Regions from separate parts of the Homo sapiens genome. Here region 2 is linked to region 1. A link means that fine-mapping ties the variant in region 1 to the expression of a gene that starts in the linked region. Tissue or cell type: whole blood. Region 1 holds a variant in brackets; the other region holds the start of a gene. All regions are shown on one strand. Distances are between the middles of the regions. Region 1 overlaps LOC124902198 (a long non-coding RNA gene). Region 2 holds the start of CTSL (cathepsin L).

Evidence for each region.
Region 2: CTSL starts here. The variant in region 1 is fine-mapped to the expression of CTSL in whole blood (TOPMed, PIP above 0.99).

The regions. Positions count from the first base shown.
Region 1 is chr9:87,740,867-87,753,030 of GRCh38, reverse strand. LOC124902198 (a long non-coding RNA gene) reads left to right here. Exons shown (of 2, transcript XR_007061644.1): 2 at 674-1,278. It also overlaps the pseudogene EIF3JP3. Among named protein-coding and RNA genes, the nearest start is that of CTSL, 21 kb to the right of the region's middle. The variant A/G (reference allele first, on the strand shown) is at 6,117.
Region 2 is chr9:87,719,016-87,731,179 of GRCh38, reverse strand. It overlaps CTSL (cathepsin L), which reads right to left and starts at 5,061. Exons shown (of 8, transcript NM_001912.5): 1 at 4,782-5,061; 2 at 3,451-3,586; 3 at 3,031-3,153; 4 at 2,784-2,930; 5 at 2,371-2,595; 6 at 1,445-1,607; 7 at 682-799; 8 at 1-172. The coding sequence starts at 3,576. The coding sequence ends at 73. RefSeq lists a silencer at 1-72, promoters at 3,744-4,164, 3,744-4,783, 4,988-5,198, 5,037-5,218, 3,576-5,218 and 7 more, cis regulatory regions at 4,165-4,398, 4,399-4,544, 5,120-5,121, 5,144-5,147, 5,158-5,161 and 12 more and enhancers at 4,749-5,270, 8,685-8,734.

The DNA.
Region 1 (12,164 bases):
CTTTATCTTCATAACTGTTTTGCTTTCTGGGTTTCTCTTTTCTTTTCATGATATCACTTTAGCCTTGGCAGTGAAGTCACTGATATCATGAACAGAAGGGAGAGATCCAGGAAGCAAAACAATTATGAAGATAAAAACCGTTTGTTTTGTCTTTAGTAAAGTTTGAAGTACCACAGGAATCCCTTTAAAATAAGTTGTAACATCTGACATTTGTCATTTGTAAAATTAATGAGTATACTTTTTATGCTATCACCCAAGTCAATGAGAAAAAAAAATTACAGTAATATCAACTCAGGAGTGACTAACATGGATATTAAGTCATTGACCATGGTCAAAACCTTTGCTACTAACAGCCAAATAGGCTACTCTAGACTGCACCTTTTTAGGTTGTCTTGTGGTATTCATGAACTGTAACCATTTTAAGATGTTAAAAATTAAATCTTTCTTATGTAATTAAAAAAATAATCCTATAAACTCTTAAAAAAATCTTTGAGACCATAAAGAGGAAATAGACCCATATAATTAGGCATTCCCCATTCCCTGTATATGATCCCTTCAACATGCCAAAACCAGGGCAATCTCAATATGAGATTTGGAAGTTCTGCTGAGTTACTAAGTCCACTCTGGTACTTTATGTTTGTTATTTCTTGTGTCTTATTCCCTCCCCCATTAGTTGCTGCCTCCCTGACTTGGTCTCATTGTCCTCAAATCAGACCTGCAGCTACGGTCCAAAGCATCTGTAAACTTCATCCTCAAATGCACAGGATCCACTGAGGACCCAACTTGTACTGCTGAGAACTAACCTACCTTCTGAACAAGGAGTCTGATGTTTCTTTGGGATCATTGTTAGAATGCCAGATAAAATAACATGTAAGAGTTCATTGTAGATCACACAGTCTGATCCGAGGAAGCAATAATCCCTTCTTTTAAATGCATTTTCTAGTCACAGTGTCCTCTGTCCAGGTGCTGATCTCCCACTCTAGAAGGAGGAATCAGCAATGGCTGAAGGCACAGGTCTCCCAGGTTCACAGTCCCACTGCCGGGCAATTAAAAAGCCTTGGTACATCACACTCTGGGGACTGTTGTGGGGTGGGGGGAGGGGGGAGGGATAGCACTGGGAGATATACCTAATGCTAGATGACGAGTTAGTGGGTGCAGCGCACCAGCATGGCACATGTATACATATGTAACTAACCTGCACATTGTGCACATGTACCCTAAAACTTAAAGTATAATAATAATAATAATAATAAATAAAAAAGAATAAAATAAAATAAAATAAAATAAAAAGCCTTGGTGTTGGGGTGTTCTGCCTGAGTGTTTCCTTGGCCAGCATCCCAGATTTGTGGTTCACGGAGCAAGGTCCATACAAGGTCACCATTGCCAGGCTAATTATTGTCTACACTGGGGATGTGGCCTGTGAATCCTCTAAATCCACCCACAGTGCACAGTACCCTACTCCTCATGCACACTTCCAACTTCCAAATTTCTATGTGCTTCATGTAGAAAGTTACTGACATGCAACACTCAGGAGTAGTGTCAGGGATGGTTGCAAGACTCTGCGGAAGTGAGTAGAATTTGATTAAGAAATATGTGAAGTGGTAAACGAGTGAGTTTTTCCCCAAGTTCAAAGGGATAAATGAAACTAAATAATGATTTGAATGATATAAGAAACATGTTTTAGTTATATCAGAAGGACAAACAAAACTGTTACATATCCCATCTCCCCAACCAAAGCATCTTGAGGACAGAGACTTTGTTTTACAGTGTAGGGGTCCCCAGTATATGATAGACACCCAGTAAATACCATGGCAGAATGATAATTAGGCTAAGAGAAGAATTGTTGCTAATTTGGCTACAACTCCCCGGGACCCTGGCACTTTGCCCACAGCTCAGTGGGTCTCAGGTGGACTTGGGGAATTTCTCCTGCCCCCAGGACACAGGAATCCTAGACCCTCCTTGCTATCCTAGAGATGCTTAGAAGTGCCTCAGGGAACTTAGAACTCCTGTGTTCTTTAGAGAGTCCCCATCATCAGAAGCTAGCCAGTGTCCTCAGCAGCGGTCCTCTAAGGCCTCACCACTCCATTCTCAGGGGCCTGGTGGATTCTGGAACTCTGCCAGAGTCCTGCAGGACAATGCAAGAGGTCCATGTGGGTGGCATCTGGGCTGGCAAGCCACGGGCCACCAATCCTGCCTGAACCCATCAGTTTTCAAACACAGGGAGCTGGGACCTTCTTCTGCTGCCCCTCTCCCAGGGAACCATGGAGGGACAGTGAAGAGAAAGAGAAACAGCTTGAGGTGTGTGAGATTACTGGTACAAACTAGCATGAAGGGTATTTAAGGTAAGACTCAACAAAATATCTAATCTAGTGATATCAAGAATAACAGCATAGTGGCCGGGTGCGGTGGCTCACACCTGTAATCCCAGCACTTTGGGAGGCCAAGGCAGATGGATCATCTGACGTCAGGAGTTTGAGACCAGTCTGACCAACGTGGAGAAACACCATCTCTACTAACAATAGAAAAATTAGCCAGGAGTGGTGGTGCATGCCTGTAATCCCAGCTGCTTGGGAGGCTGAGGCAGGAGAATTGCTTGAACCCAGGAGGCAGAGGTTGTGGTGAGCTGAGATCATGCCATTGCACTCCAGCCTGGGCAACAAGAGCGAAACTCTGTCTCAAAAGTAAATAAATAAATAAATAAATAAATAAATAAATAAATAAATAAAAGAAAAGAAAAAGAAAAACAGCATAGTACAGTCATCTGGGACAATGCTGTTGCATTTCCCCTAGCATCTAAGGAATTTTTAGGCATTGCCACACCAGGCAACAAAGCCTTTCTGAAGTACCATGGGGAGTTGCCCACTCAGCAAGAATAGTTTGATCATTTTGCCCAATGATGAAAGGGAAGAAAATTGGGAACTTCTCTGAACTTGCATTTCTCGCTTATATTTTTTATTTTTCTTTTGGATTGTAGAAGCAGTGAGAACTATTTATGCTTTTTCTTTTTCCTACTTATTTTGATTGAGATAAATGGGGAAGTTGATAAATAAGAATGTTTTGCTGGAAATACTAAACGTTGATAACCATAATTACGGAATACTCCAAAGCTTCCATTTTAAAACCTGTTTGCATTTCAGACATGTCTGCACTAAAACAGTAAGTGGAAAAAAATGACAAACCAATAGAAGCAACAATTCCAGTGCCCTTTGACTTTATGAGTTTCCTACTCAATGGCAAAGGTTTGGGAAGAAGATAACTCAAGTCTCATTTCTGGTATGCATAAACTTTGGGCAAATTACTTTCAGTCTCGAAGGCTTGATTTTAACCACTATAGATGTGTATAACAGCAATGACCTCATAATTTTGTGTTAAAAATTAAATAAGATACCGTGAGTGTTGATATAATCACCCATCTCCAGAATTCCTCCTTTGAAAATAGACACACAATAGAACATTCTGTGACCTTAGAAAGGAAGGAAATCATGTCCCGTGCTGCCCCATGGATGAACCCTAAGGCCATTGTCCTAAGAGTAAGAGCATGGTCACAAAAAGGAAAATATTGTGTGAATCTACTTATACAAGTTATCTAAGGCAGCTAAGTTCATAGAAATAGAAAGTAGAGTGGTGATTAGTGGGAACTGGGATGGGGAGGAAAACAGGAGTTGTTGTTTAATAGGTGTAGTTTCCATTCTACAAGATGAAAAAGTTCTGAACATCTGTTTCTCAACAAGGTATTCAATTTTTTTATTCTTGTTTTAGAGGGATTTAAGGTACCTTTGGGATCAAAAATTTTAGGAGTACTGGAAAATTGGTGGTCATATAATTCATCCACTTATGAAGAGCAGGAATATTCTAATATCCAGCACACTTCTTACTTCTGTCTGGATTATACCTCCTGCCGTGTAGCAGTTAAGTACTTCCTTTCAACAAACATGCACCATTTGTAGTGCCAGGAAGGAAATACATTTTCTCTTCCCTCTTAGGTTCACTGACTGGGAGGCTCTGCAAGTTTGACTCACAAGAGACAGATTAACAGGAGAAAATAATAGAAAGTTTACTAATATTTTACATACACAGGAGTTCACAGAAAGGAAAGGAAAGTCAAAGAAATGGCTAAACTCAGAGGCTTATGTGCCATTTTAACAAAGGAAAGAAGATTTGGGCTTTGAGGAATGATTAATTGTGGAAAAGTGACTAGGAAAACTATGTGGGAACTAATGGATTATCCTGCTTATTTAGGGAGGCTTGTTTATGCAGACTTATTTTGGTGTTGGCTCTCTGTCCCTGGTGACAAGTGTTCCCTCTCCTCATCCTGGTACAGGAGAGGGGGAAATCCATGCCACCTTAACAAAGGGAAATTTATGCCCGGGTTTTAGGCATCCGAGGGGAGAGCAGAGAAATAATCTTCTATCTATTGATTTTTAGTTTCTTTACACTCAAAATAATCCTTAAAATGGCATGCTCTGGGGCAAGGGGGGTGGAAGGGGAGGTGTCATGGTCGTTTTCACGAGCTGGATGCTGATTCTTCTTTGAATGCTCGCTAGTGTCCTTAAAATGTCACCCCCACCCGCACCCCCAGGCTCAAGCACAATATTCCAGACATGACACCATGAAATAGGCATTAACAGCACTATTTCCTCCTTTATCTTGCTTTTTAATCTCATTATTGCAAACTTTTAAAGTGTCCAAATCACGTTGATAACCATCTCAAAGTGACCAGCAACCAAAAACTAAGACTTTTTTTTTTAAGGACACTACTAAACCATTTCTACTTTTTTCTTGTAGTTGCATCACATGAATATGGCTACATATATTTTTGTTTTACTTTTGTTACTTTTTTATTTTTATTTTTTCTGACTCTTTGGCTACATATATTTTTAGATAAAATTTGACACACATACATATATTTAATCTCAACATAAGGCTTTACATTTACGCACAGTAAATTTTATTCTATTAGTTTTAAACTTTCTAGGGTTTGGAAGTCCTCTTCTTTCTGCCTTTCTGTTTAAAATCCTGATTCTTTTATTCACGGTGCATGCCCTCTGTCATGGGCATTTGTTGTTCTGCCTCCCTGGTGAAGCCATCCTGGTTTCCTGTGGAGATTGCTTTTCACAGAGCAATCCATGTGCTGTAGCTGAGGTGACCATCCCTCTCATCCTGAGGCCAGCATGGGACCCAGGCAGGGCCAAGCAGCACCAGCCCAGACACAACTGGGAAACCCACTTTCCTCCAAGGAGGATAAAAAGTGAGCCTGGCTGGGAGTGTGTGCAAAACAGAGGACAGTAGGTCCTGAAGGTGGGAAGAGATGGAGTGCTGATGACGATCTGTGAGCCCTGCATCCAGCCAGGTCTGTGCCACCCAGGTCCTCCTCTTGCATAAGTAGCTTCAACATTGGTTTCTGTCTCTTTCAGTCAACAGACTTGTCTTATAGAGCATCCCTTCAATGGTCACTGAAGCTTCGACAAATCATTTTCTTATAGGAGGGGCTGGTGTTAACAAGGGGCCCAGGGAATTAGTTCCAGAGCTGTGTTTCCCCAACAAAAACAGTTTTTGTCTTTCATGTTTGTTTGGGTGGCTTAGTGGGGTGGGATGGATTTTTGTGTGTGCCCTCAAGCACATCTACAGTGAACTCATGTTTTACAAAGTTGCCAAGAACAAACATTGGGGAAAAGACAGTTTCTTTAATAAATGGTGCTGGAAAAACTGAATATCCATGCAGAAAAATGAAACTAGACCCCTATCTCTCACTATATACAAAAATAAAATCAAAATGGCTAAAATTCGAAACCTGAAACTATGAGACTACTACACAAAAACATTGGGGAAACTCACCAGGACGTTGGTCTGGACAAAGATTTCTTGAGTAACACCCCACAAGCACAGGCAACCAAAGCAAAAATAGGCACATAGGATCATACCAAGTTAAAAAGCTTCTGCACAGCAAGGAATACAGTCAATAAAGTGAAGAGGCAACCCATAGAATAGGAGAAAATATTTGCAAACTACCCATCTGATAAGGGATTAATAACTAGAATATATAAGGAGCTCCAACAATTCTATAGGAAAAAAGTCTAATAATCTGATTAAAAAATTGGCAAAAGATCTGAATAGAC[A/G]TTTCTCAAAAGAAGACATACAAATGGCAGGCTGGGTGTGATGGCTCACGCCCATAATTCCAGCACTTTGGGAGGCCAAGGCTGGCATATCACTTGAGGCCAGGAGTTCAAGACCAGCCTGGCCAACATGGTGAAACCTCATCTGTACTAAAAATACAAAAATTAGCCAGGTGTGGTGGCACACGCCTGTAATCCCAGCTACCTGGGAGGCTGAGACAGGAGAATCACTTGAACCTGGGAGGTGGAGGTGGCAGTGAGCCGAGATCACGCCACTGCACTCCAGCCTGGGCAACTGGGCAACAGAGTGAAACTCCATCTCAGAAAAGAAGAAGAAGAAGAAGAAGAAGAAGAAGAAGACATACAAAAGACAAACAGGCATATGAAAAGGTGCTCAACGTCACTAATCATCAGAAAAATGCAAATCAAAACTACAAGGTGGTGTCATCTCACCCCAGTTAAAATGGCTTATATCCAAAAGACAAGCAAAAACAAATGCTGGAGAGGATGTGGAGAAAACATAACCCTTGTACCCTGTTGGTGGGGATGTAAATAAGTACAACCACCGTGGAGAACAGTTTGGAAATGCCTCAAAAAACTAAAAATAGAGCTACCATACGATCCAGCAATCCCATTGCTAGGTATTTACCCAAAAGAAAGGAAATCAGCATATCGAAGAGATATCTGCACTCCCATGTTTGTTGCAGGATAGCCAAGATTTGGGAGCAATCTAAGTGTCCATCAACAGATGAATGGATAAAGAAAATATACATATACACAATGGTACATATACACAAAGCACTACTATTTCAGCCATAAAAAAGAATCAAATCTGTCATTTGCAACAACATGGATGGAACTGGAGGTCATTATTTTAAGTGAAATAAGTCAAGCACAGAAGTACAAACTTCACATGTTCTCACTTCTTTGTGGAGCTAAACATTAAAACAAGTGACCTCATGGAGATACAGGGTAGAAGGATGGTTACTAGAGGCTGGGAAGGGTAGTGGGAGTGTCAAGGGAAGTGGGGATGGTTAATGGGTACAAAAAAATAGAAAGAATGAAACAAACCTAGTATTTGATAGCACAACAAGGTAACAGTAGTCAATAATAATTTACTTGCATGTGTAAAAATAACTAAAAGAATATAATTGGATTGTTTATAACACAAAGAAAGGATAAATGCTTGAGGAGATGGATACTCCATTTACTCTGATGTGATTATTACACATTGCGTGCCTGTATCAAAATATCTCACATAGCCCATAAATATATACACTTATTATGTACCCACAAAAATTACAAAGTAAAAAAGCATTTAAAGTACCTTCAAGCTTCCTGTAAGCGTCACCACCATATTCATTCAAATGACTGATAAATCTCATTGAGAGATCCAGTCAAGGACACACCCCAATTACTTGCCACCAGAAACCAAGTGCAAATTGACAGTAACGAACACTGTTTTATTTAACTGTGCCTTAGCCTTCTTTTGTTCAGGAAATCTTTTTAGCCTTCATGTTGTAAGATTTTCTCTTTAAAGTTTCAACAAAACTTCAGAAAAATTTATCCCCTTAATTTATTCCTGTTATTAAAACTTTCTTTTCTAAGTATAAGTGGGACCTTAAACCCCATTACCAAATCATTATGGTGGGATTACACTACAGATTCCAATGATCACAAGAATACTGTGGCCAGACACAGTGGCTCATGCTTGTAATCCTAGAACTTTGGGAGCCTGGGAAGTGGAGGTTGCATTGAGTCACGATCACGCTACTGCACTCCAGCCTGGGTGACAGAACCAGAAACCCTATTTCAAAAAAAAAGAACACTGCTTTCCCACCTAATAAGTACTTTTAGAAGTTACATTAGGAAAACTGACTGTTCTCACAAGGGTTCTAGAACCCATGAGTTTGAAAATTGTCTTTAATATGTATTAGGTTTGTGCAAACATAATTGCGGTTTTGCCATTTAAAAGTAACGACAAAAATCGCAATTACTTTTGCACCAACCTAATACATTGTCAGAAACATTTGGGATAAACTTAATATATAATAACATGTAGTATGTTTATATTAACATATAATAATGAGCAGTTTTTTAACTTTATTTTTGTTTTTTATTTTTCTTTTTTTTTTAATTATTTTAAGTTCTAGGGTACATGTGCACAACATGCAGGTTTGTTACATATGTATACATGTGCCATGTTGGTGTGCTGCACCGGTTAACTCGTCATTTACATTAGGTATATCTCCTAATGCTATCCCTCCCCTCTCCTCCCACCCCACGACAGGCCCCAGTATGCGATATTCTCCGCCCTGTGTTCATGTGTTCTCATTGTTCAATTCCCACCTATGAGTGAGAACATGCAGTGTTTGGTTTTCTGTCCTTGCGATAGTTTACTGAGAATGATGGTTTCCAGCTTCATCCATGTCTCTACAAAGGACATGAACTCATCCTTTTTTATGGCTGCATAGTATTCCGTGGTGTATATGTGCCACATTTTCTTAATCCAGTCTACCATTGATGGACATTTGGGTTGGTTCCAAGTCTTTGCTATTGTGAATAGTGCCGCAATAAACATACGTGTGCATGTGTCTTTATAGCAGCATGATTTATAATCCTTTGGGTATATGCCCAGTAATGGGATCACTGGGTCAAATGGTATTTCTAGTCCTACATCCTTGAGGAATCGCCACACTGTCTTCCACAATGGTTAAACCAGTTTACAGTCCCACCAACAGTGTAAAAGCGTCCTATTTCTCCACATCCTCCCCAGCACCTGTTGTTTCCTGACTTTTTAATGATCGCCATTCTAACTGGTGTGAGATGGTATCTCATTGTGGTTTTGATTTGCATTTTCTGATGGCCAGTGATGATGAGCATTTTTTCATGTGTCTGTTGGCTACGTAAATGTCTTCTTTTGAGAAGTGTCTGTTCATATCCTTCACCCACTTTCTGATGGGGTTGTTTGATTTTTTCTTGTAAATTTGTTTAAGTTTTTATAGATTCTGAATATTAGCCCTTTGTCAGATGGGTAGATTGTAAAAATTTTCTCCCATTCTGTAGGTTGCCTGTTCACTCTGATGGTAGTTTCTTTTGCTGTGCAGAAGCTCTTTAGTTTAATTATGAGCAGTTTTATAGCCATAGACTCCTATGTGCAAAAATGCATATTCTTGACCCTTCCCCTGTCTCCCATCCCCTACCTCTGTGGCTCAGGGACTCACACCCAAAGGTGACTTCTCTGCTCTCCTTTCAAATCCTTCTCATGTTCTGAACCTTCTCTAGGCTGGGGCAGAAACTGCTGTCTTTTGTTCATAGAATAAACTCCTTTAATGCTCTTTGTAATTTATTTATTTGAAATAGTTGCTTTATAAATCATTGCAAATGTCATAATTGTTAGCAATTTATCAAACTGTAGTTAACTGGTGCAGTTTGTTGAGCATATTTTATAAAGGAAAAGAAAGGAAATGCCAAAACCCTGGTAAAGTTGTTTTATTGCAGCCCAGGAGAACTAAGATTTGTTTCTCAGACACTTAAATCAGGCAAACAAAAACAGGTAAAGAGTCCTGAAGCCCCCATCTGAAGCACTTCATCAGTAGAAATAGTTTGATAAGTAATGTCACCACCCAAGGGGTTCACCTTGCCCACTGTTTAGACAGAGCCAATTTCTCAAGACAGGGGAATGGCAATAGAGAAAGAGTAATTCACAAAGAACCGGCTGTGTGGGAGACCAGAGCTGTATTATCACTCAAATTAGTCTCCCAGAAGAGCACTTGGGGAGCATAGTTTTTAAGGACAACTTGGTGGGTGGGGAGAGGCCAATGAGCCAAGACTGCTGATTGGTCAGAGAAGAAATAATAGGGAGTCGAAGCTGTCTTCTGTGCTGAGTCAGTTCCTGGGTGGGGCCACAAGGTCAGATGAGACAGTTTATTAATCTGGGTGGTGCCAGCTGATTCATTAAGTGCAGGGGCTGCAAAATATCTCACGCACTGATCTTAGGAACAGGTTAGGGAGGGTCAGAATCTTGCAGCCTCCAGCTGCATGACTCCTAAACCATAATTTCTAATCTTGTGGCTAATGTTAGTCCTGCAAAGGCAGTAGTCCCCAGGCAAGGAGGAAGTCTGCTTTGGGATAGGGCTGTTATCGTCTTTGTTTTAAACTATAAACTAAGTTTCTCCCAAAGTTACTTCAGCCTACACCCAAGAATGAACAAGGACAGCTTGGAGGTTAGAAGCAGGATGGAATCAATTCAGTTAGATCTCTTTCACTGTCTCAGTCATAATTTTGCAAAGGTGGTTTCAGTAACTAGACAGTCTTTGTATTCAAGAGAATCCACAACATGTGATGTTATAATGGAGAGGCTTACCCTCTTCAGATTCAAAGTTGGAAGGCTTTGGTCATTTAATTTTAATCAAACTAGTGCTTTTCAGCCACAGTATCTTCACTCTGGCATAAGCAGTCTTCTTCACAATGTATTTTTAATAGCCTCACATTCAATTTTAAGACAAAGCAATTTTCATACTAGGTGCATGCCACATGCCCTTGCTGCAGCTGCTTTTCTTGACAAGTTATGAAGTAGTTCAAGGAGGTATGGTTAAGGCTGTATTACTGAATAGTGCTGTTGAGTACTACACAATTTATTTTGTCTTGTTGCAGCCTTTTGTTTCCAATTTTCAGTGACTGCCGCTATGAAATCTGAAACCAAAAATGACATTATTAGGTTTGCTTTGTTTTGGACTATGATTTAGTAGCAATTGAGGTTCCTGATTTTAACCCCTTGGCAGCAAGATCCAAGCTCCCTCATTTGCACGTTAACACCTAAGTGTCAAGGGGTTAAATAACCAGCACGAAAGAGACTGCACTTTGGATTGTAGCATTTGGCAGAACTGAAAGGAAAGGAAGTTGTGCTGTGCGTTGAAGGGGTCGTGGGCAACATAAAGATGACACCAGGAAAAGATGCAATGTCACATGACATTTTCATAGTCTTGTGCATACCCTGCATCATCACCACCATAATTTACCAGATCATTTGTCATGGTGGCTTTTAATCTCCCTCCAGGAACCATACCTTTGTTCTTCTTTTTGGCTTGGCTTTGCTTGCTTCTGTTTTTCACTTCAAAGCACAATGTATTGAGAACCTTTTTCAAGTCATCAGTTTCCAATGACATACACACATCTCCAACTAAGACTTCCAAAAAACTGGCATAATATAGTGACTTTTTATTTTGTGTAATTTTATCTTTTAGTAACTTTCCAAACTCTGTAAGGTCATCCCTTGAAGATGGGTTTACAGCATCCGATCCATATACAGTAGTCTTAACACCAAAAGTTGCCTTTGCTAATTCCATGTCTGACTCTTCCTGTGATTTCTCCAGCTGCGGTTTATCTGCTAATTGTTCCTCTGGTGTTAGCAGCTGGAGTTCTTCAGGTTCTTCTAACCCCTTTTTAATTTCTTCCTGCCCTTTCTTCTGTTGCCGTTCTTTCTTTTATCTTCTCTGTTAGTTTTTTCTTTTCTAAAATGTTTATTTCTGCTTCCTCTTTTTTCTTTTTCCTGTCATCACCATCATCCCAGTTATCCCAGACGTCCTCATCCTCGTCCTCTTCCTTGCTTTTGCAGCGGTCCCCCACCTCCTTCACGGGGCTTCCACAGACAATTTTTCTGCACCCCAGGAGTCAGAGTTCCTCTGCCGTTGCCAGAATTAAAAAACAAGCAAACGAACAACAAAACAAAAATAATTTTTTCGCTCTCAATGAGTCTGGTCTTCTGAAAGTCAAATTTTTTTTAGCTATTTAGAATATTATCTCTGCTGCAATTTTCCCCTAACATTATATTATGCAAATATTCAAACATACAATAAAGTTGAAAGAATTTTTACAGTGAATACCATATATCTACCTCCAAGATTTTATCATTAACATTTTAATCTTTGTTTTAATTCACATCTGTAGATCTATTTTTGCCTCTATCTGTCCATTAGTTCATGTTATTTTTCACGTGTTTTCAAGAAATTTGCAGGTAGTGCTTCCTCCTAAATACTTTAGCGCGCATAT
Region 2 (12,164 bases), 22 kb after region 1:
TAGACTGAAGATGAATTCCTCCCATGCATGCGCCATCCCCAGTCAAGTCCTTCCTCATCACCGTCCACCAGCTCACACAGTGGGGTAGCTGGCTGCTGAGGCAATTCCACAATGGTTTCTCCGGTCTTTGGCCATCTTTACGTAGCCACCCATGCCCCATTCTTCACCCCAGCTGAAAAAAGAGCAGGTTTTCCATTTCAGAGAAAGAATAAAGCCCAAAGGGTTATTAACAGGAACACCCAACTTAAACACTGTGCCAGAGGCCATAGACTTAACAGAAAGAATCAGGACAGGCAATGTTCCTGTTTATCCTTAAAAAATTCTTGACATAACCTGGACATAATTTCCATCCCAGCCTCCAAACTGTGACCTTTCACAGAACTACAGATCAGAGACAGGAAAACAATAGGATGTCTTTGCAGCCAGATATGCCTCAGAATTTAAAAACTGTTCAGATTTAGATACACCTTTATACAATGGAACAAATACTATATTCATACTCCCAAGATATTTGTGACAGTTTCTTACTTTTATAATCAAACATTAATATTATATGTTCAACTTAGACTTCTGGGGATTTCAGAAGTATGCCTAAGGGCATGTGGAACTGTATCCAAACACTGTTTGCAAATAAGTATTCTCTTTTGAATTTCAAATGTAAGTATTTCTGGCAATTTATACCTGTTCTTCACCAGCCAATATTTATTGTTATCTGATTCTGTGCTTTCAAATCCGTAGCCAACCACCAGCACACCATGATCCATGTCTTCACTGCTACAGTCTGGCTCAAAATAAATGCCTGGGATGGTAAAATGAGGGCTGGGGTGAGAAGCTCCAGAGGACACATGACAGTAACCCATCCTGTCACCCACAGGGAATGAGGCATCTCTGAATTCAGTGAAGTGACACACATTCCAGATAGTACTTAACAACAATAAGAAGGCCAGGGATTTAAGCTCTCATTTACAACTAGCAGAAATAGAAATCAGCATAAATCCTTCATTAAAAAAAAGCTTTCCTAGAGGAAAAAAAGACCCCTCTTTGTAAGCTTGTAATTCTACTCTAGGATATCAATCTAAAAAAATAGCACAGAACACTAAAATCCTTGAATCAAAAGGCTCTTTTCGGATTTAATAATAGAAGTAAAAATCTTTGGAAAAATTATAAAAATCCAACAATTGCAGAATATTTTAAGTATATTAAACTACACAGTAAATATAGCTATTTATAAAAAGTTATGAAGTACTTATATTCATGGAGATATACGCAACATAATGTCAAATGGAAACATCAGGTATAAATATTGCATGTACAGAATGAACAACTATGATGCTAAGCACCTAAATATCTACACTGAACTTTACTTGCAAACCAGAGTCTATCATGCTCGTATGTCATGATACTCTTTTTCTGCATCAATTTCTACAAAGAAAAATATGCTTACCTTCTTTATAGAACAGGAAGGACTCATGACCTGCATCAATAGCAACAGAAATGGGCCCCACAGTTGCAACTGCCTTCATCAGGGCCTTCTCCTGCTTAGGGATGTCCACAAAGCCGGTGTCATTAGCAACAGAATACTTGGGATTGTACTTACAGGATTCTTCCTTTCAAAGGTAAAGGGAAAAAAAAGACTTGATTACTGCTGTCCTCCTCCTGGAGAACATGAGTTAGAACCACAACACTCAGCAGTGTGCAGCTTAGTATTTCCAAGTCACCACTGTTATAAATCATCCCAGGAAGTGAAATGCTATTAGTTAATCTGAAACTGAAAATTGACTCCAGTCTCTTCAATGAGACCTCTGGGTTTACTTCCATAAGACATTTTTCACAATAGAGAAATGTGTATATTTAGAATGGCTTGTATATTCTTCACGTTACATAGAAGCAAGAACAGCTATATGTTACCCATCTAATCACAGGATTGTGCAAAGGCTAATAATTTATAATGACAGTACTGACAATTTGCAGATATATATTCTGCCATCTAATATGTGAACTTTTTTTTTTTTTTGGAGACAGGGTCTCATTCTGTCACTCAGACTGGAGAGTGCATTTGCACAACCACCTCCCACACTCAAGCAATCGCCCTACCTCAGCATAGCTGGGACCACAGACGCACACCACCACAGCCGGCTAATTTTCGTTGTATTTTTGATAGAGTCAAGGTTTCACCTTGTTGCCCAGGCTGGTCTCAAACTCCTGAGCTTAAGCCATCTGCCTGGCTCAGCCTCCTAAAGGGCTGGGATTACAGGCGTGAGCCACCCCACCCAGCCCTAATATATGAATTCCGAAAAAGGTATCTGTTATCTCTTAAAGTGTCCACCTTCCAAAAGCTGAGCTGGAATGATGACAAGGAGCTCCACTTACTGTTGCCTCATATGGATAGGATTCCTCAGAGTCCAGGCCTCCATTATCCTGAACATACTGGAAAGCATAATCCATTAGGCCACCATTGCAGCCTTCATTGCCTTGAGGCCCAGAGCAGTCTACCAGATTCTGCTCACTCAGTGAGATAAGCCTCCCAGTTTTCCGGAACATCTGTCCTTCAAGAGCACCAGTAGCACTAAAAGCCCAACAAGAACCACACTGACCCTGAAAAGGGAATTAAAAAAAGCTGTCATCCACAAAAAAAAAATAATAAGACTTTGACAACAGCTCACACATCTGAATACTGTTAAAAAGTGAACTGTACATCACTTTAAAGTCTACCAAAACAAAGATGTCAATCACTTCTTGGCTTTCCTGGGAAGATGGGAGGTCTGAACCTGACACTGTCTCACCTGATTCTTCACAGGAGTCACGTAGCCTTTCTCTCTCCAATCCACAGATCTGGGGGCCTCATAAAACAGAGGTTCCTGGAACACTTTCCCCTTCCTGGGCTTACGGTTTTGAAAGCCATTCATCACCTGCCTGAATTCTTCACTGGTCTTCAAGGAAAAGGAAATAAAATGTTGAAAAGCAAGAGATTACCTTAGTAAAGAACCGAAGAGAGGAAGCACAGAGCTCGGCAGTCCACAGCACACTTACCATGTCTCCAAAGGCGTTCATGGCCATTGTGAAGCTGTGTTTCCCTTCCCTGTATTCCTGATTGTGCAGTTCAATCATCTTCATGTTCTTCTCCCACACTGCTCTCCTCCATCCTTCTTCATTCTAGAGGCAAACATGTAACTGATGCTCTTTACTTCTACCTAAAACCCAACTCATCCTCACCAAGTGAATCTGCAGACAGAGATGGAAGAGAAACCATGGCAAGGGAAGGCTTGACACCTCTGGGGATGCTGTTCTCCAAACTGAGACACAACAAGGATGAATGTCCACATTGTGCTCATAATCCACGCCATTAGGTTATTACATTAGGCTATTGGTAAAAGCTGGCCTCTAGAAGCTACTCTCTGACTAAAACTTCTCAACAGCCAGGACTATTCTTTCTGGGGAAGTTTCACTAACCATGCCGTATAATCTGTTGTGCATCGCCTTCCACTTGGTCCACTGTGCCTCTAAACTGTGATCAAATGTTAGAGTAGCTGAGGCAATTCCCAGGCAAAAGGCAGCAAGGATGAGTGTAGGATTCATGTTTTAAAACCTAGGAAGGGAACAAAAATGAGGATCTGATTAGACCAATCCTAAAAAGCCATCTTACTGCCCCCTGAAAAATTAGGGCCACCATGGTAGAATAAAAATATTTAAATTATTCTCCCAAGCATTTACCCAAGGACTGTGGAAGAGGCCAAGGATGTGCCTGGAGAAAAACAGGGCACGTGGAGGTACTGGATGGACTCACCAAAATGAAAAGCAGCCTGTCCAGAGCTGTAGGAGCTGAAACAGTTTATGCGATGACAATTTAGGTTATGAGAACGGTATGAAACTACCTTGTGTGTGAGAAGCTTAAGGCAACAACTAGGAAACCGGGAAACGGTTGATCCAGGTTTTGTACCAATCGCAAAAAATCCAGGTTTCGTGCCCAGGCAAAACCTCACTAATGATAAGGTGGGATTCCCAAGTAGGGACAAAGAGATCCCCAAGAGTTAGGAGGCCTTCACACATCTTCCTGACTAACAAACACCAAAAGCTGAGATAAGTTTTCCAATCTCTCCTATTTATTTATTTATTTATTTATTTATTTATTTATTTATTTTTTGAGATGGAGTCTTGCTCTGTGGCCCAGGCTGGAGTTCAACGGCGCGATATCGGCTCACAGCAACCTCTGCCTCCCGGGTTCAAGCCATTCTTCCTCAGCCTCTTGAATAGCTGGAACTACAGGCGTGCGCCGCCTCGCCCGTCTAATTTTGTATTTTCAGTAGAGACGGGGTTTCACCATGTTGGCCAGGCTGGTCTCGAACTACTGACCTCAGGTGATCCGCCCACCTCAGCCTCCCAAAGTGCTGGGATTACAGGAGTGAGCCACCGCGCCGCCCCAACCTCTCCTTAAATGAAACCTTTCTGAAATGCTTTCCCAGGAAAAACTGGGAAGGAGAGCACGCACTGCTCCCTCCTTCATTCACTTGGGCCTGTGCTGCCGACACCCCAAACTGCTCCCCTAAATCAGGGACGGGGTCATATGGCCGCACGCGGGAAGCCAGCGCCCTGCAGCCAGCTTCCAGGGCTCCAGGCGTGGCAGGGCCGGGGACATGACGCCTGCGCCACACACTGGCTGTAGCGGTCAGAGGATGTTTGCGGTGACGCCAGCAGGAGTACCGCTGTCTGGCGTGCGGGGACTGAGCTTCCCTGTCTGGCCGGGCCAGGCCCTGAGTCGGCGCGGCGCGGCCTGGCTGCGGTACCTGTGTCCACCCGGCTCGGAGGCTGGCCTGCCCGCTCAACCAGTCACGCGCCTCCGCGGGGTCCTCAACTGCCCTCCCCGGCTTCCCCACCTCAAGGCCAGCAGAGTTCGGGGTAGACGCTCTCGTTGCCAGGGCTGGTGCACACCTACTCGACCGCGTCCTCTCTTCCAGTCCCTGTCCGGCCACAGCTGGGCCTGGCCGGCGGCGCTTTCCTGCTGCGGTCGTAGCTGCGCAGGCGCACTCCACGGATGCCGCTCAAGGTTGCGGAGGTCGCGGTTCTGGCCCAGCTTCGCCTGACTCTGCTTCTAAAACCTCGGGTCTGGGTTCGGCCGGCACCGCCCCGCCGCCTGGCTGCGCTGCGATTGGCTGTGCCGGCAGCTGGGCGGGGACTCTGGGTGCTCTGATCCCTGGCGCGGTTCGTGGCTTGTTTACTGACTGTCCCAGAGCTGGGCGTGCCTGCCTCAGTGGACCTGGAGGAAGCAGAGCTGGTGCCCCGGGGCGGCGCAGAGTAGGGTCGGGCGTCTCCCTGGAGCGCTCGAGTCAACTAAGTACACGACTTACTGCACTGGGCGAGTGGCTCCTGAAAAGACGTTTACCGCAAGCCCTGTGTGGACTGTTTCAGCCTAACCTTGCTATTCCTTAGTCCTGGAATTTTTGGTCCGCAGAGCCGAGAGTCAAGTGTACTCTAGTCCAGTGGCTCCTGTTTAGTCCACAGCAAACGTGGGGCCGGGTGGACGAACGCAGAGCCCGCGGGCAGAAGCCTTATCTCCCACTTAAGGGTGGGTGCAGCTGGGCTTTAGAAGAATCTGGTAAGGAAAGGCATCCCCAAAACACGAGATGCTATCGTCAAGACCAGACCCTAGGAGGGAGGAGACTGGCTGCGTCTCCAGAGAGCGCGGGCGTTTTGTCAAGCATCCTTTCCAGACTCCTCCATTCAGGGATTCTTCCTTCTCCCACGTCTTACCCAAAACCAACAGAAATGAGTTATTTACAGAAACATTTGGTTGACAGGAGAAAAGCAGTTGAGAACATTAGAAGCTGCTTTTATTCGCCCACTCTCTAGGCTATGGATTATATCTTCCTTGGTAACCAAGTCGTTCTCTTGAGATTTAAGAAATTTAATGACATTTAATGTCAGGATTTAAGATACAGAGAATGGAGAAATGTTGTAGATAGAGGAAAAATATGTATCTTAATCTGTATAATGTAGATATTAATTTATGTAATTAAGGATTTAAGGAACAAAACCCACAAACATTCTAAACTTTTGTCATTTCATTTTTTATTACATAAAAACATTCATTGTAGAAAATACCTTTCGGGGAAAAAAATAATTACCTCTGCCTTTACCCCATAACCTTTTCGTATGCATATTTTGACTTTGTTAAAAATGAACAAAGTCCATTGATTTCTATTGAAGATTAAACTGATAACTCTTTTAGAAGCACAATCACCTATAGTTTTTTAAGTGGTAAAATATACCTCACATAGCAAGTACCATTTTAACCAACTTTGAGTTCAGTAGCATTAAGTACCTTCACATTGTGTAACCATTACTACTGTTTATTCCCAGAGCTTGTTTATCTTCCTAAACTGAAACTGTATCCATTGAATAATAGTTCCCCATTCCCCCTCTCCTAGCTCAGGTATCTACCATTATATTTCCTGTCTGCAGGAATTTGTTTACTATTTTGGAGATTATTCCTCTTTTTTTTTTTTTGAGACGGAGTCTGGCTCTGTTGTTCAGGCTGGAGTGCAGTGGCGCAATCGCAGCTCACTGCAATGTCTGCCTCCTGGGTTCAAGTGATTCCTCTGCCTCAGCCTCCAGAGGAGCTGGGACTACAGGCGCGCACCACCACGCCTGGCTAATTTTTGTATTTTTAGTAGAGATGGGGTTTCACCATATTGACCAGACTGGTCTTGAACTCCTGACCTCGTGATTCGCCTGCCTTGGCCTCCCAGAGTGCTGGAATTACAGGTGTGAGCCACCGTGCCCGGCCGATTATTCCTCTTTTTATGCATTGCTTCTCTGGAGAACCAGTCACAATGTGTAGAATACAATCTAACTGTGATATCTGTCCTAGTCTCTTTTCTGTTGCTAATAACAGAATACCTGGAACTGTGTAATTTATGAGAACAACATTTATTTCTTACAGTTTTCGAGGCTGGGAAGTCTGAGGTCCAGGAAGTGTATCTTGTGAGGGCCTTCTTGCTTGTGGGGATTCTTTGCAGAGGCCCAAGGTGGTGTAGGGCATCACAGGGCGAGAGGGCTGAGTGTCCTAGCTCAGGTCTCTTCCTCTTCTTTTAAAGCCATCAGTCCTGCCTGGGCGCAGTGGCCCACACCTGTAATCCCAGCACTTTGGGAGGCCGAGGCAGTCAGATCACTTGAGGTCAGGAGTTTGAGACCAGCTTGGCCAACAGGGTGAAATCCTGTCTCTACTAAAATACAAAAATTAGCCAGGCGTGGTGGTGCACACCTGTAATCCCAGGTACTTGGGAGGCTGAGGCGGGAGAATCACTTGAACCTGGGAGGTGGAGGTTGCAATGAGCCGAGCCGAGATCACGCCACTGCACTCCAACCTGGGTGACAGAGCGAGACTCCATCTCAAAAAAAAAAAAAAAAAAAAAAAAAGCCATCAGTCCCATTCCCAAGATAACCTGTTGGTCTATGAACCCATTATTCCATGAATAGATTAATGTATTCATTAGGGAAGAGCTCATATGTCCTAATCACCTCTTAAAGGCCCCACATTTTAATGCTGCCACATTGGAGATAAGTTCCAACAAGAGTTTTGGAGGGGGCAAACAAGGAAACCATAGCAGTATTTAAATTTATTATTTTATGAAATAAAAACAATATTTCTGTGGTGTTAGGTAACTGGAGTACCTACGTCTGCCTTGGTTCTAACTTTGCAGATTTCAGGATCACAAGAAGTTCATTGGAACAGCTGAATGTTTCTACCGGGGGCTTAGAGCTCACTTGGTCCTTCATGAGTTCCTTACTGGGGAGTGTGAGAGAAACTGCTCAGATGGCCTCCCCTTCCCCAAATTTGAAAGAGAAAGAGAGAGAGTTGTGAGTGAGTGGCTTTGCTCTCCAGCACTTGCTTAGTGAAGAGCCTCAGAATCTGGACTGTGGCCTCCCAGTTCTGAGGAACCCCATTCGCCACCAGGAGGGGTGGCATGTTCACCCCGTTATTCAGGAAGGAATTGGAAAACAAACAATCGAGGGTGTGAGGTCAAGAGCTAGAAAATCGCAAGCCTCTGGCACCTGAGCCAGGGCAGATGCTGGGAGCACCTGCAGGATACTCCCATATTCTGCCACCTTGGTACTTATCAGCCTCTGAGAACTGAAGCCGGACCCTTTCTTTGCTTGAGCAGAAGATCAGACCAAAGAGCTCATTGACTCAAGGAGCATCATGGCAACTGGGCTGTACCCGGAGGGGAAGAATCCAGGGTCTGATCCACAACCAAGGCCTGAAGAAGTGGGGCCTGTACTTGACCTACCCAGGGTGAGTCATGACCCAAGTGCTGGGGCTCTAGCCATGGGTGGTCCTTCCAACCATTTCCAGCTTCCTCCTGCAGAGGGGCTGGTGTTTTTCTTCATTTTCCATAACCTCCTTGGGAGCACAGGCTTTGGTTTCTGCCTTCCCTGGATCAGGTCTCCCACAATGCAGTTGCTCTAACAAAAACTATTAGCAACAACATAGTACCACAGAAGCCAGCTCCTTGCTAGCAGTGATTGCTGATGATATTGTCTTCTAGAGACCATTCTAATGACTAGACAGCCTCGGTGCAGGAGGAGCTGTTGTCGGTCATGAGGAGCATTTCCTTGTCTATGTAGAGGAACTGAAACCGATGTGGCCAGCAAAATTTACCCAAAGCAATCACTGGGATACTCATCACACCCTCATGGCCCATTGTATCACTTTTGTTCCCTATATATGTGGTCCCATTTCCTCAGGACCAGTACTCCCTTATGTGGGGAGCAGGACTGATGCCTTGAGTTACTTATAGTGACTCGTTAGTTGGGGGATTTGCTAGTATTTTCATCAAACTTGAATCTAGTGAAACATTTGATTGAACTGGCTTCCAAATTGAAAATAAACCAACACCACTCAGGAAACCTATTTACAGCGAGAAGTCAGGAGTGGGAATGCATCTTGCACTGTCACCTTGATTAACAATAGCTCTGACCTGTGGGAGGACGGTCCTCTCTCCTGTAACAAACATAGGGTAGTGATGGGCCAGGTCCTGCTGCTCCTACATTCTCATCACTTAGATAAGCACAGGCAGGTGACTGCAAGCCTTCCAGCCTCCACCAGCATCCTCCAGTTCTCCCCTGACCGCTCTCATTCATATTCCGCACTGATTCAGAGGTCCAGTCCTGAGTGGCAAAAAGAAACATGCGTGAGCCTTTCTAGAAATCAATCAATCATTCATGGATTATAGTGAATTCTTCCCTACTAAACACATCTCCAGAAATTCAGGCGTAGTAACTCCCTTCCTGAATGTCTTTCCAAGGCCCTAAGTGACATTGATGTTCCATAGACAATGTCTTACACGGCAAAGTGCTTCTGGGGGTGGGAACCTGCTGACCTTCCCTGGAATCCTGACTGCAGGTTCTGTTTAGAACATGGGGTCTCATTTTGAGAAGCTCTTGGTATTTATCATTCACGGGAAGTTCACAGGTTCCAGAAAACACTGGACAGCATTCAGGGGAAAGAAAAGGGGCAGAGATGGAGACACCTGGTCAGTTTGGCCAGAGCATCCTGGGGGAAATGCACTGAGGGACAGAGGGGCAAATGCACATGGGTGGTGGGGAGAGGAGCAACGCAGATAGCAAAGACACTGTCCAGACAACCTCCCAACTCAGGAGAAGGGACTGAATCCAAGAGGAGAAGAGGAGGGATGAGGCTGGGTGCTGAGGCATGCCCCAAAGTCTTTGAAGTCTGAAAATCAGACACCCGTAGACTTGATTTTGGTGTCCTGATAGAAAAACAAAAACAATGCTAGCCATAATTTTTAAAGGCTTTCATATTTTGGGAAATAAGCTTCTCATTTGAGGCTAGATTTAGTTCCTTCCCTCTGAAACATGTTCAATTCATGATTTCTACTTAATTCAGATTTTCTAGTTTTGTAACAACTTAAGCTGGTTGATCTAGCTTTGCAGGCAGGCAGGCAGGCAGGAAGGAAGGAAGAAAGGAGGGAAAAGAAGGAAGGAAGGAAGGAAAGAAACAGTAAAAGAAAAAAAAGGAAAGAAGGAAGGAAGAAGACTACAAAAGTCTCAACATGAAGTGTTTCTGCAAGTAAACAAGGAATTCCTGCTTTTGTACCAAGGACTCCATAGTTGTCTGGACTCCTTAGGGGCCACAAGGCCACTGGCCGTGATGTTTCAGTGAACTGTGAAACAAAGCACTGACCCGCTGCTGTTCCACCATGATGCCTCCAATCTCTGGGCCTCGAGGGAAGATAGTATTCGTTCATTCTGAAAATACTTATTTAGGATGTACCACTTGTCTGGTGAGTGGTGAGCATGATGGCTGACAGGCAGACACAGGCAATAATCAAGTACACAAGTAAAGAGTAATTAAGTCCGCTTATTTTGGAATTAAATAATTTGGAGTTCAAGTCATAGTTCAGTTTTTGACAACCATGTCACTTTGGGTGAGACACTTAAATGTATAGAGCCTGCACTTCCTCACTTGTAAAGGGGAATTAAAAATGTGGGTATTGAGAAGATTGAAGCAGATAGGTTAGGTAGTGCTTAGAAGGCAGTTCCAAGCACACAGCTACTATTCTTCTTACAAATGTTTTGGAAGGTTAGAGTGCCCCTGAATCATTGAAACACTCTTATGAGAGCCATACCTTAACACATATTACTGAAGATGTTAGATAGAATTGTCGAAAAACACAGAAAAGTAATGAAGAATGTGACAAGCCCTTGAGACCTGGGGAAGGCCAGTCAACTGAAGTCTTAGGACAGAGCAGAGAGAGATGGATTAGGGATATAGGGCCATAAGCATGATCTGGAGCTATGCCAACCCACTATCTCTGGTGAGCTCTTTTCCATGGTTTGATGTAGGGTGAAGGAGCTCCTGGGCCCTTGGAGTTTCTCAGCCAAAACAGCTCCCATCATCATTGCTTTCTCCCCTGTTGTTTTTTGGTTGTTGAGCCCAAAAGTGTGTGATGCCTCGAAAGAGGTTAAAGGTGGGCATCACCTCTCCCTAAAATGCAAGCTTAACCGGCAGTGGCCCATCTGGAAGGCTTGTGTTTTTCTCCTTCTTCTCTTGCATATTCTCAGAAACATAATAAGCACATCAAAAAATGACTTTTCTTGATTTCTAGCCAGAAAAATCAGGACTTCCTTGACTTTTAGTGGACTGACCATTGTGTTGTCCTGGAAAGCCAGATGTGGAGCAGACAGGAATGAACATTTGCCTTCAAACTTCAGTGTCCTGGCCTGTTCGTAATTTGATGAAAAAGGCATTGATTTATTTAAAAAATGTAGAATATGTGAATGTTTAATTACCAGATAGAGCAAGTAACCCACCATCTCTCTGGCTTATAAACAATAATGGCCCACATCCCCTCCACCTTGTTCCTAGAGCACTAAGCCTGTCATTGAGGTGGCTTGGTTTGGAAATTTCCCTTTGAAATTTCTAATGAATAACTTGCTGGTGGCCGTTTTCAAGGATTCTCAGAGGACCTTAGCCTTTTATCCTTCCAGCAGTTTCATCTGTTATTTTTCAATAATTTTTTAGGTGAAAAACAAATAAAACAAGTGATCATTATGAAAAACATAGATAATACAGATAAGCAAGACAAATGGGGGGAAAATACCCAAAGACTCACCTAAAATCCCACTGTCCTTGTTGGCCTCCTGAAACCAGTGGTCAACTGGGAACACACTGCTGACTTACGTGCCAAGCACCACATTCGCCTTGTTGTGTATTATGGCATTTGATTATCAGAATAACCCTCATCCCCATTTTACAGATGAGTACAGTGAGGTTAGAGAGGTTACGGAGCTTGCCCAAGGGCACAGGGCTAGTCAGTGAGGAAGCCAGGATTTGGTCTCAGGAGGTGGAACTCCAACAAATGGGGATGCAGTGCTGCAGGGGTGTATGGGACCCTGGTACTGAGGGCTGACAGTCATTAGGAGAATTGCAGGAGGACCACAGGGGACAGTTTACGCTAAACCTGACCTTCTCCACAGTTCACAGGAGCAGCAACCAAGACATCACACCCTCCCAAGAGTCCCAGCCGAGAGGTCATTTCCCAGCATACAGTTCCCAACTCTCACCTCCTGCTTCCATTCAAAACTTCCTCAAAAGCACTTCCTGTTTTCTGTGACTCTCCATTGAGTTTTGGAGAAATCTTATC